2 separate regions of the Homo sapiens genome follow, and region 1 is linked to region 2. The links come from fine-mapping of genetic effects on gene expression. A gene starts in region 2. The other region holds a variant in brackets. All regions are shown on one strand. Distances are between the middles of the regions. Region 1 overlaps NEK11 (NIMA related kinase 11). Region 2 holds the start of NUDT16 (nudix hydrolase 16).

What was found.
Region 1: its variant is fine-mapped to the expression of NUDT16 in blood mononuclear cells (TOPMed, PIP 0.99). The same link has a PIP of 0.9 or more in T cells.

Annotation. Positions count from the first base shown.
Region 1 is chr3:131,223,830-131,229,209 of GRCh38, reverse strand. NEK11 (NIMA related kinase 11) reads right to left here. Exons shown (of 18, transcript NM_024800.5): 15 at 522-682. Among named protein-coding and RNA genes, the nearest start is that of NUDT16-DT, 150 kb to the left of the region's middle. The variant A/T (reference allele first, on the strand shown) is at 2,293.
Region 2 is chr3:131,378,584-131,383,938 of GRCh38, reverse strand. NUDT16 (nudix hydrolase 16) reads right to left here and starts at 2,165. Exons shown (of 3, transcript NM_152395.3): 1 at 1,997-2,165; 2 at 1,624-1,893; 3 at 1-777. The coding sequence starts at 2,134. The coding sequence ends at 598. It overlaps NUDT16-DT (NUDT16 divergent transcript), which reads left to right and starts at 2,464. Exons shown (of 4, transcript NR_038976.1): 1 at 2,464-2,606. RefSeq lists enhancers at 1,157-1,725, 1,726-2,295, 2,587-2,856 and a silencer at 2,177-2,476.

The DNA.
Region 1 (5,380 bases), 150 kb after region 2:
CCACTTAAGCAAGAATGTGTCCTCAGAGGCTAAAAGTAGCTAGACAGATTATCCCCTAAGCCCAGGATCTTTGGTTCTGATCCCCAAAACTAAGTCAGTCTTTACAAATTTTATTTGCATTCAATTTGTGAATATGACCCCAAAATATGATTACCAGACAGAAAAGTATATAAAAAGTGCCATTCTCTCTGCTAAAGAGATATTTGCATTTTTTAATTCAATAGCTGTATACGAAGCCCTCCTCAGTGGGAATATGGTGTGTGCCATCTCCCAACCCCCCAAATAAGTGCAGCATGCTCCAGTTCTTCCCCCATCAACATGGTCCAGATCAGATTCTCCAAATTCCATAGGGCCCTGCCTGCCTCTGGACCTTGAAAAGCCAGACTTACCACAAGTAGCTATTATAATAACCCTGTTCCCCATGTCCCCAACTTCACCTTATAAGACTTCCTTTCTTCTCTGGGAGAGTCCAATCAGTACCTTGAACAGTTCCATGGCTTCCGACAGGGAGCATTACATACCTGTTGGTTTGTTCTGTAAGCAGGCTGGGATCCCTCATTCCTGATTTCTTTCTCTGGTCTTTCTAACGCTATTTCTTCTTCCTCCTCATCACTCTCTTCACAATAGGAATCAAATGCATCAGCGTAGTACTCTTCAGCCACAAGTGGGTCTTCTGGGATCTCTGAAATAATGAACAAACAGTCAGATACTACCAGTTATTAAAATTATAATGAGGTAAGAATACTGTATCTTTTCACAGGGATGTATATTTTGCTTGCGTTGACAAAGCTTCCATGGAGTGTAGAGCTGAATCTCAGCTTCCTGGAAGTATTTGGTTGAATGTAATAAACACTCAGCAAAATAAAACCAGTAGAGGAAAGGAGGAACATTTCCATTAGCAACTACCGTTTGAAGGTAAGAAAAAAATCATTAAATAAGAATAAATAATATGCTTTAACATTTTGACATTTGGAGGCATGAATCCTTATTAAAAATGAGGAAATTTAGGGGCAAAGGTAGGACAAGATGTCCTGGCTGAAGGGTCCTATTACACAACACACATAAAGTTTTTAGCATAGGAAGTTGGAGCAAAACTACCACAGCATTTTTCCTAGATATTTCTTTTTTTTTAAATGTTACTGGTAGGACCAAACAAGATGAATAGGATATATAGCAGCATCATTTTGGCAAGCTGGGAAAAACACAATTCTTTTCTAACAGGTAATGATGGCTTTTGAGATGGAGTTCACTCTGGTGGGTCCTACTTACTCAACCTTACATTCAGCACTTATTTTAAAAAAGAATACCCACCTAAGCTGATGACAATAAGCATCTACCCAAGTTACTTGATGCAACATTGTTAGTAACTAGAATAAAGTTGGTGTTTATAACAATCTTCAGTGAAGAAAGGCCATGAATGGATCACAAGAAAGCATAACAATATAATTTACTAATGGGGGGCTAGAAATAAAGAACTACCCAAACAACTACCCTTGGGCTGGGGGAGGAGAAAATTAGAATACTCAGCTGCAGCAAAACAATGGGCATTTTAGACTTTGCACCATACTCAGACTTAAAATTAAAATTTTTCTTCCAAATTGTAACACATTATTTTTCAATCTATTGTTGCTATTTCTGGTCTAGTGGGAAAAATATGAAATTTGGGGTCAGAAAATCAAGGCTAGAATCTAGCTCTTCCACTTTTTAGATGAAAATTTGTGCAAGAGACTTAAACTCACAGAGCTCCAATTTCTGTGATAAAATTAACATAAGTGTAATCTAGTAGAGTGGCTGCTGAGATTGAGTAATAGAATTCTCATGAAAGCATCGGTATGCAGGGAAGTTTCATACAAATGTTCACTCAATTTCCAAGTCTGTACAAATGGGCTTTTCATTAAATGAGTCCAGAATCCTTTGAAAGTAAGATACTTAATGGATGTAGAATTCCCTGGAAATAGAAGATGTTAAAATGTGTTTGTTATCTATGGTTTCCCACTAAAACATAAAAGGCTGCTGTACAGTAGAATAAAAATTAGTCAGCTCAAAAGACAAAAATTACATATATTCAAAATTGCCTTTGCCAGTTCCTTAGAAAGCAGTGTACTAGGGATCTCATACCTTCTCTCAGCAATTTCAACACAGCGTATTTTTTTTTTTCACATCAGTTCAGATCACTGATTTTCAGCTGAGCAACAGATGAGATAGAATACTGTTATGGAGAAGCCATAGTTTTTATTATTTTTATTATTTATATTGAAATAATATATATTATTTTTATTAAACGTGGCTTCT[A/T]GTCATTATATCAAGAAGACACCTGCACGTGTCTGTATGTACACATATATATATAACATACCTATACACATATGTACATGCATATAGAACTTCAATACCTTTTGCATACAAGTGGTTTTTGGTTACATGGGTGACTTTTGTAGTGGTGAAGTCTGAGATTTTAGTGCACCCTCACCGAGTAGTATACACTGTACCCAATATGTAGTCTTTTATCCCTTACCTCCCTCCCACCCTCCTCCCTTCTGAGTCTCCAAAGTCCATTATCCCACTCTGCATGCCTCTGTGTACCCATAGCTTAGCTCCCACTTATAAGTGAGAACATATGGTATTTGGTTTTCCATTCCTGAGTTACTTCACTTAGAATAATGGCCTCCAGCTCCATCCAGGTTGCTGCAAAAGACAGTATTTCATTCTTTTTTTAATGGCTGAGTAGTATTGCATGGTGTATATATGCCACATTTTCTTTATCCACTCATCAGTGATGGGCAGTTATGTTGGTTCCATATCCTTGCAATTGTGAATTGTGTTGTGATAAACATAAACGTGCAGGTGTCTTTTTGCTGTAATGACTAGAAGCCATGTTAATAAAGATCTTCATTTTACTTACACTGAGAACGACAAGAGAATCACAGCATGAGAAGTGTATGAAAACTAAAATCTCCTGAGAGATCTCCAGTTCTGCCATCAAGTAGGGACATGTGCTTGCTGAGTGGAATGAAAGACAGAACCATATGATGTCTTCCTTCTCTTGCCCACCCTCAACTCTCCCTGAATCTCTGTGTCTCTTTCTCTGAGTTGTCCATTCTCCCTCTTTCCCCACTCTTTTCTACTTCCTCTCCCTCTCGAGTCTCTTTGTCCCTTTGACAGTTATTCATTCTCTCACTCATTCATATTTTTCCCTCTTGCTCTCCCATTTTTTCTTTATCTTCATTCCTCCTTGTCCACTCCCTTGGCTTTCAAACTACGACATGGTAAGAAATATCATTTACATTGTTGCCCAGTGCACAGAAATGTGCTTATATATGTATGTTTATAAATATCTTTATAGTCGAAACAAAAGTTTCATACACCAAGACCTATTTACCCAAACTACATATGACACACTCTGGTGTTTTTCATCCTGTTCAATTATTTTTTTAATGCTGGTTGCAACTCACTAAACTGACCTCTCAACCTGCAGTTTGAAAAACACCCCAACCTAGCTAGAGAGGCCAACATTCAGAAACACTCCTTTAGAATGCTGGCTTTGGCATAAAAACAAAATCTGCATTTAAATCAAGCCTCTAGCAATAGCTCTGTAACACTGTGTTATTTAAGCTTTCTGCACTTCAGTTTTCTCATCTATAAAATAAAGATGATAATATTCATCTCATGGAATTGTTGTGAACATTACATAGTATAATGGATGCAAAGTATGTATCAAATAAGGCAAACACTCAGTAGTTTTTCCTGTAATACCCAACACCAGGAAGAAATAAGTCATGCATCACTTAACAACGAGGATATGTTCTGAGGAATATGTCATTCAGGTGATTTCATCATTGTGTGAACATCATAGAGTGTACTTATTACAAACCTCGATGGTATAACCTACTACACATCTATGTTTATGTGGTATAGCCTATTGCTCCTAGGCTACAACCCTGTACAGCATGTTACTACACTGAATACTGTAGACAATTGTAATACAGTGGTAAGTACTTGTGTATCTTAACATTAAAAATGTACAGTAAAAATACAGTATAAAAGATTTTTTAAATGGCACATCTGTACAGGGCTGTTACCATGAATGGAGCACGCAGGACTGGAAGTTGCTCTGGGTGAGTCAGTGAGTGAGTGGTGAGTGAATGCGAAGGCCTAGAACATTACTGTACGCTACTACAGACTTATAAACACTGGACACTTAGGCTACACTACATTTATAAAAAATGTTTTCCCTTCTTCAATAATAAATTAAGCAGCTTACTGTACATTTTTTAAACTTCTTGACTCTATTGTAATAACACTTAGCTTAAAACACAAACACATTGTACAGCTGTACGAAAATATTTTCTTTTTTTCATATCTCTCCTAACTAGGAGATAGTCAATAAGCATTTTTTCTTTCTTTTTCTTTTTCAACTATTTTGTTAAAAATGAAGACACAAACATACACATTAGTCTACTGCTACACAGCGTCAGGATCACTGATACCACTGTCTTCCACCTCCACATCTTGTCCCACTACAAGGTCTCTAGGGGCAGTAACACACACGGAGCCTCCATCTACTGTGATAACAGTGCCTTCTTCTGAAATACCTCCCGAAGGACCTGCCCAAGGCTGTTTTACAGTTAATTTTTTTTAATAAGTAGAAGGAGTACACTTTAGAAAAATGATAAAAAGTATAGCAAGCCAGGCATGGTGGCTCACTCCTATAATCCCAGCACTTTGGCAGGCCGAGGCAGGCAGATCACCAGAGGTCAGGAGTTCGAGAACAGCCTGGGCAACATGGAGAAACCCAATCTTTACCAAAAATACAAAAAATTAGCTGGGTGTGGTGGCGCACACCTGTGGTCCCGGCTAACTGGGAGGCTGAAGTGGGAGGATCACTTGAGCCTGGAAGGTGGAGGATGCAGTGAGCCGAGATCGTGCCACTGCACTCCAGACTGGGTAACAGAGTGAGACCACACCTCAAAAAAAAAAAGTATAGTAAATACATAAAGCAGTAACAGTCATTTGTCATCACTATACTGTACATAAATATATGCATTACACTTTTATATGACTGGCAGTGTAGTAGGTTTATTTACCCAGCATCACCACAAGTATGTGAGTGGCTATGTTGCTCTGCAATGTTATGATGGCTATGATAGCACTAGGTGTTGGGAATTTTTCAGCTTCATTAACTGGACCACCATTGTACATGCAGTCTGTCATTGACCAAAAGATTGTTATGCAGTGTATGACTGTATTAGACAATTGCAAATATATACTCAAGTTTAAAATATTTATTTATTTTAAATAGAATAATTTCTCAAAATCCATACTGAACCCAACTGAAATGGGCAATATGGAATCTCGCCTCTCTGTGGTTTCCTTTCTGTGGACT
Region 2 (5,355 bases):
TTTCAGAAGAAAAGGATTGGGGATTGGTTGGGCTGCTCTCCCACCTTTTAAGAGCCAACTGCTTTGGTCACCACTCAAGACAAGAGCAAGTCTATTTTCAGAAAGCACAGGGGGTGCTCTGTTTCTCTATCCTCCCTAACAAATAGGCTGGGCTAGACCCTGGAGGGCAACCATGGAGGAGTGTGGGAAGGATTCACCCTTGCTTCAGAAGCTCCTTGCAATCAGGGACCAGGGTAGTGTGACAAATGCCACTTCAAGGTTAAACTGGACATGACCAGGGGAAGGTGTCAGGCTGTGTGTTGTTACAGATTGTATATTTGCATGCCTGGGGGTTACCAGGCTGTACGCATATAAACAGGGAGGAGGCAGGCTCTGAGAACCTGCCAGGGTGCCTGGGATAAGCTGTGACTTTTTGCCCCTGATGCCATAAGTTGGAGGGTCCTCTGCTCAAAACATATGGTACACACTTCTCCTTCTTTTCATCTGGTATCATGTATCATCTCTCAGATCCAATAAGAAAACATTCCCACGTCCTTCCCTCCCTCCCTAGTACCAAGGTCCTCATCTCAGTTTTCATGGGTCCATGGAGGGCTGCCTCTAGTGATGAGCTGGAATCTTAAGGCCTGAAATAGAGCCAGACTGCAGCAGTCCCAAGTCCTGGAGAGCTTCAAGTAACTGCTCCCGCGCAGAGCCAATAAAGGAATTCTCCAGGAAGGTAGGCAGGCCTCCTACACCATCCCGCAGGGTATACAGGGGCACTCGCACCAGGCCCAGCACCTGTAAAAGGAAGGAGACAGGAGACACTAGGGCCCCAGGTGGCTCATTCCCTTAACTCCATCCTTTCTCCAGCAGATCAGGCCTCACCCCTTAATACTCCAGCAGAACCAGGCCCAAGGCTCACACCTCACTAAAGCCTAGTGGCCCAACCTTCTGCAGGAAAATGACCCAAAACATATTATCTAGCTCTATCAATTAATCTTTCCCACATCTGCTTCTAAACCTCTAGTGGCTACTGCCTCAAAGATGTATTCATACCCTTTCACCAGTGGTTGTCAAAATGTGGTCCTCAGATTATTTGCATCAGCATTATTTGGGAACTTTTGAAAACTACAAATTCTCAGGTTTCCTCTCCCCCCGCCCCACCACCAATGCAGGAATGCTGAGAGAAATCGCTATTTTAATAAGACGCCCCGATGATTCTGCTACCTGCCAAATTTTGAGAACCACCTTCATACATAATCTATCTACTAGCCCTGCCTGAAATATCAGGGCCACATCTCCTACACAAGAAAAGCAAACCCCAAGAATAAAACCTAGGTTGCCACACCTAGATAATGTGATAATCTATCACACTGTCAATAGGGAACAGCAGAGAGACATGGATGAGTGTGTTCTAGAAAGGATCTCTCCTGGTAAAGGGTGGGAAAGACCTTTACAGAAAGCCCAGGTTGGCAGTACTAATTCAGAGTATAGATGATCACGATCCCAACTCCACCAAGAAAGCTGGGGAGAGGGCAAGGTCAGAGGGGCAAAGACTTTTCTCCAGGGATGCTTTCTTGGGGGAGAGAAAGCTTTGGGAGAAGAGGAAATTGGGAAAGGGACAGAGTCCCAGGCTGGTCCCACCTCCAGCCCGTGGTCCTTGGCGCGTGTTGCGCCGGCCTCCACAGCCAACAGCTCCTCGAGCGTCAGACGCTTGGCATAGAAGTGGGCCACAACGCGTGGCCCTGACCCGACGTGGGAGCTGCGGTAGTCAGTGCGCTCCACGCGGAAAGCGGCAGCCGCTTCGCCCAGCTCCTCGCGCAGCTCGCGGTTCAGCCCGTCCTCTAGGCTTCTGTCCTGCGTGTCCACGAATCCGCCGGGGAAGCCCAGGCGTCCATCGAAGCGCATCTGCATCTGCGGGAGGGGGAAGCGGGGATTGGCAGGGGCGCCCCAGAGGAGACCACCAGAGAGGGTGCGGGGCTCAGGCAGAAAGTGGCCGGGCGCGCCCCCTTCTCACCAGTATGGCGTAGCGCAGCGGGATGCGGCCGAAGAGCATCCCAGGGTCCGGCGCGTAGAGGAGAGCGTGGCACGCATGACGCCAGCCCGACCCCAGCGCCAGGGCCTCGCCTAGCTCCAGCCTGCGGGCTCCGGCCATGGCCGGACACTGCTCCTCTGCTGTCCCGAAGGCCCAATGGGCAGAGGGGCGGGTCTCACCTCGGACCAATCCGAGCCTGGGCGGTGCTGCAAGGCCCAATCCCTGCAGGGATAAGGGGAGGAACCTAGGCGCCTGGGGGCGGGGCGCCGCGACCGGTGCGGGAGGCAGCTAATCAGGGCGGGGCTTGCAGACCGGGTTGAAGTCCAGGGCCCAGGAACCCTAGGGTAACCGAAAGCAGCCTCTGGGTTGGGCCTGCGGTGGGGCGGGGCTAGAGGTGTGGCCGCGCCCTAAACCTGGCGCAAGGCCGGTACCTAAAGGCTCCTGGGAGCCAAAAGAGCAAGTCAGGGAACTAGCTTTGGTTGGGTTCGGTGGTACACAAAGCACAAGGCCTGGGTTGGGGTTAGGAGGAAATGAGACTTGCGGCGGGTCGGGGCTGAAGATGTGGCAGCGCCCTGAACCTGGAGAAAGGCTGGTACGTAAACGCCTGCGTCGCAATCTGGAGTCAGCTGGAGTGTCCCGGCAGGTGAGGAAGAGCTGGGGCGCTCAGTTGAGTGCTGGGAGCCAAAGAAGTAATAACTACCTTTGGTTGGGTGTGGTGGTACACAAAGCACAAGGCCTGGGTGGGGGTTAGGAGGAAATGAGGCAGGGTTGGCCTCAGACACCAAGGCCTATCCTAGGGAAATGGAGATGGACAGGCGCCATGGTCTGACAACTATCTTGAGTGGTGAAATTGAGGGGACTTGGTGACTGAGTGAATGGGGAAGAGGGAGCGCTGGGCTAGTGGTGGTTCCGAGTTTCCTGGATGTGGTGTCATTTTCTGAGAGGGGGAGAGTAGGAGAAGGGTGAGCAGTGATAAGTGTAGTTCTAAGGAATTGGGGTGGCCATAGGCAGTGGGCAGCTGATCGTGGGGGTCTGACGCACAGGGAGTGGCACATAGAGAAGTCACAGGGCAGTGAGATTTTCAGGGGAAGGGTGGGGGTGGAAGGAGCTGTGAGTGAAATCCTGTGGCACAGGACTGGGAGTGAGGAGGGGTGAGAGATAGAAGAAGCCTCCTAGGCTTTCTAGTCTTTCCCTCAAACCCCCTCAGACCTCTGAGCTATGAAGGAGGGTGGGTTACCCTACCACAAGGGCAGAGGCCTACTCAGGGCCTGATGCTGAGATGCAGGATCCCTCACTCCAGGCCAGGCCTTCCCCACCCTGCAGAGCGCCCCTACACCAGGTGTCGATATTGATTATGCAATAGAAAGCAGGAGGCAGCTCCTTGAGGGGGGCTGGGCATAAACTCACAGCCTGTAAGTGACGGCATATGGTGGGAAAGAGTCCGGACCCACCCAGAAACAGGTTTGTGACCTTAACAAGTCACTTAACTCTCTCAGATCCCAGCAGCTCATCTGTTAAGTGGAGATGATACCAACCTATTAGGGATGTTGAGATATGTTAGGCACTTAGAACAGTGCCAGGCAGAAAGTAAATGTAGCCATTCTTGGAGTTGAGGGTTGGGGCACAGTGCTATGTCTTACGTTGAGGAGCCAGGGCTGGGCACATACCTATAATCCCAGCACTGTGAGAGGCGAGGTGAGAGGATCATTCAAGGTCATGAATTTGAGACCAGTCTGGGCAACATAGCGAGACCCCGTCTCTACAAAAAATAATAATAATAAATAAAGACCCAAGTGTTGGAACTGAGCTGCACTCATCACGCTCCAGTGTTTGAAGGAGGGATGAGCTGTATGACATCATCTTTCCTAGCTTAGTCTTCTGCGTTGTGGGGCAGGGATATTATCTAATAACATGAAGCAACTGCATTAAAGTGATGAGTCTGTAGGTGTGATACAATTGTCACTGGCCTGCTAGAGTTCCAGGGGGTTTGGAAATAGCCCTGCTTTAACATTAGAGTCACCTCGCAAAAAGCTTCTAAAAATTTTTAAAAGCTGCCACTTTTTCCTACCACAGACCAGTTGAATCAGAATGTATGGGGTCCTACAGGGACATATGCGGTTTTTAAAATATGTTTTAGGTAACTAATAACCAGGGTGGAGAACCGGGGCCTTCCCCCTTCCACTAGCATTCCAAAGGCGACTTGGTTTTTCTCCTAGATAGGCTACCTTTAATGATTTAGGATCAAACATGCCCTTTCCAGATCTTCAAGCTGTTCTTTCTTTCCTGGTTACTTGAGACTTTAAAGATGGACTTTTCAAGATGACTTCAAAGATTTCAAAGGCAACATGAAAAACTGTAAAACCAAGGCAACAGCTGTACGAGTTTTCATGATTTTGGAGACCAGAGCTTTTTCTAGATGAATATGATGAATATGGAAGTCCTTTAGAGCCCCCAACCTTGCCATCCCTTTCAAATCCTTCTCTGCCTCTGCCCCACCCCCACCAACCATCCCCCATTCCACTATCCTAAGGCAGAATGCCCAGGACTCAAGGCTGCAGGTAGAGGGCTGAGCCATGTACCTAAAGAGCTGTTCCAAGTTCATAATGGTACCTGGAACCAAAAATAACTCTGTAGTCAGCATGGGAAGATTCTAGAAAACCAATCTATTATTTTAAAAATAATAATGAAAAGAACTAAGCATTTATCCTGCCTTTTTTATATGAGCTCTTCCTCAGGGCCACCAAATAGTTAATGAGAGGAAATTTATTTCACAAAGTATTCCAGGTAATCAAAGAGGAAGGACAGAGCCAATCAAAATTTTAACATTTGTTAAACTTTAAAGAATTAATGGAATCTAGGGAATGATCATCATTGGTTGCTAACATCATGAATAGACAGTTGTTATACACATTGTGATAAAAGAGCACACTACCTCCTTTGGATTATCTCTGCCAAAATATTGAACTGTCATCTTGATCTAACAATTTATAAGAAATTCAAAGGAATACCTATTTAAAATATTAGGAAGAGACTAGAATGATCTATGTAGTAATAGATTAGAGTTTGAAACATCAGTATGAATTCATTTTTAGCTTGATGTAGATATGGCTATATATATACACATACATACATGCACACATATATGTATACATACAAAGGTTAGTGTGCACAGATATTTCCTTCCTCTGTCAGCTGAGTGGGCTTAGAAGCAATGATATTCCAGTAGCAACAAACACACCAACTGCCACATTTTGGTTTCTAATACCATTTTCCATAAAAGGAATCAAAGCCCTTTGGAGAAATGGCTGATTCTAACATTGGGCCAGGAAATATGCAACATG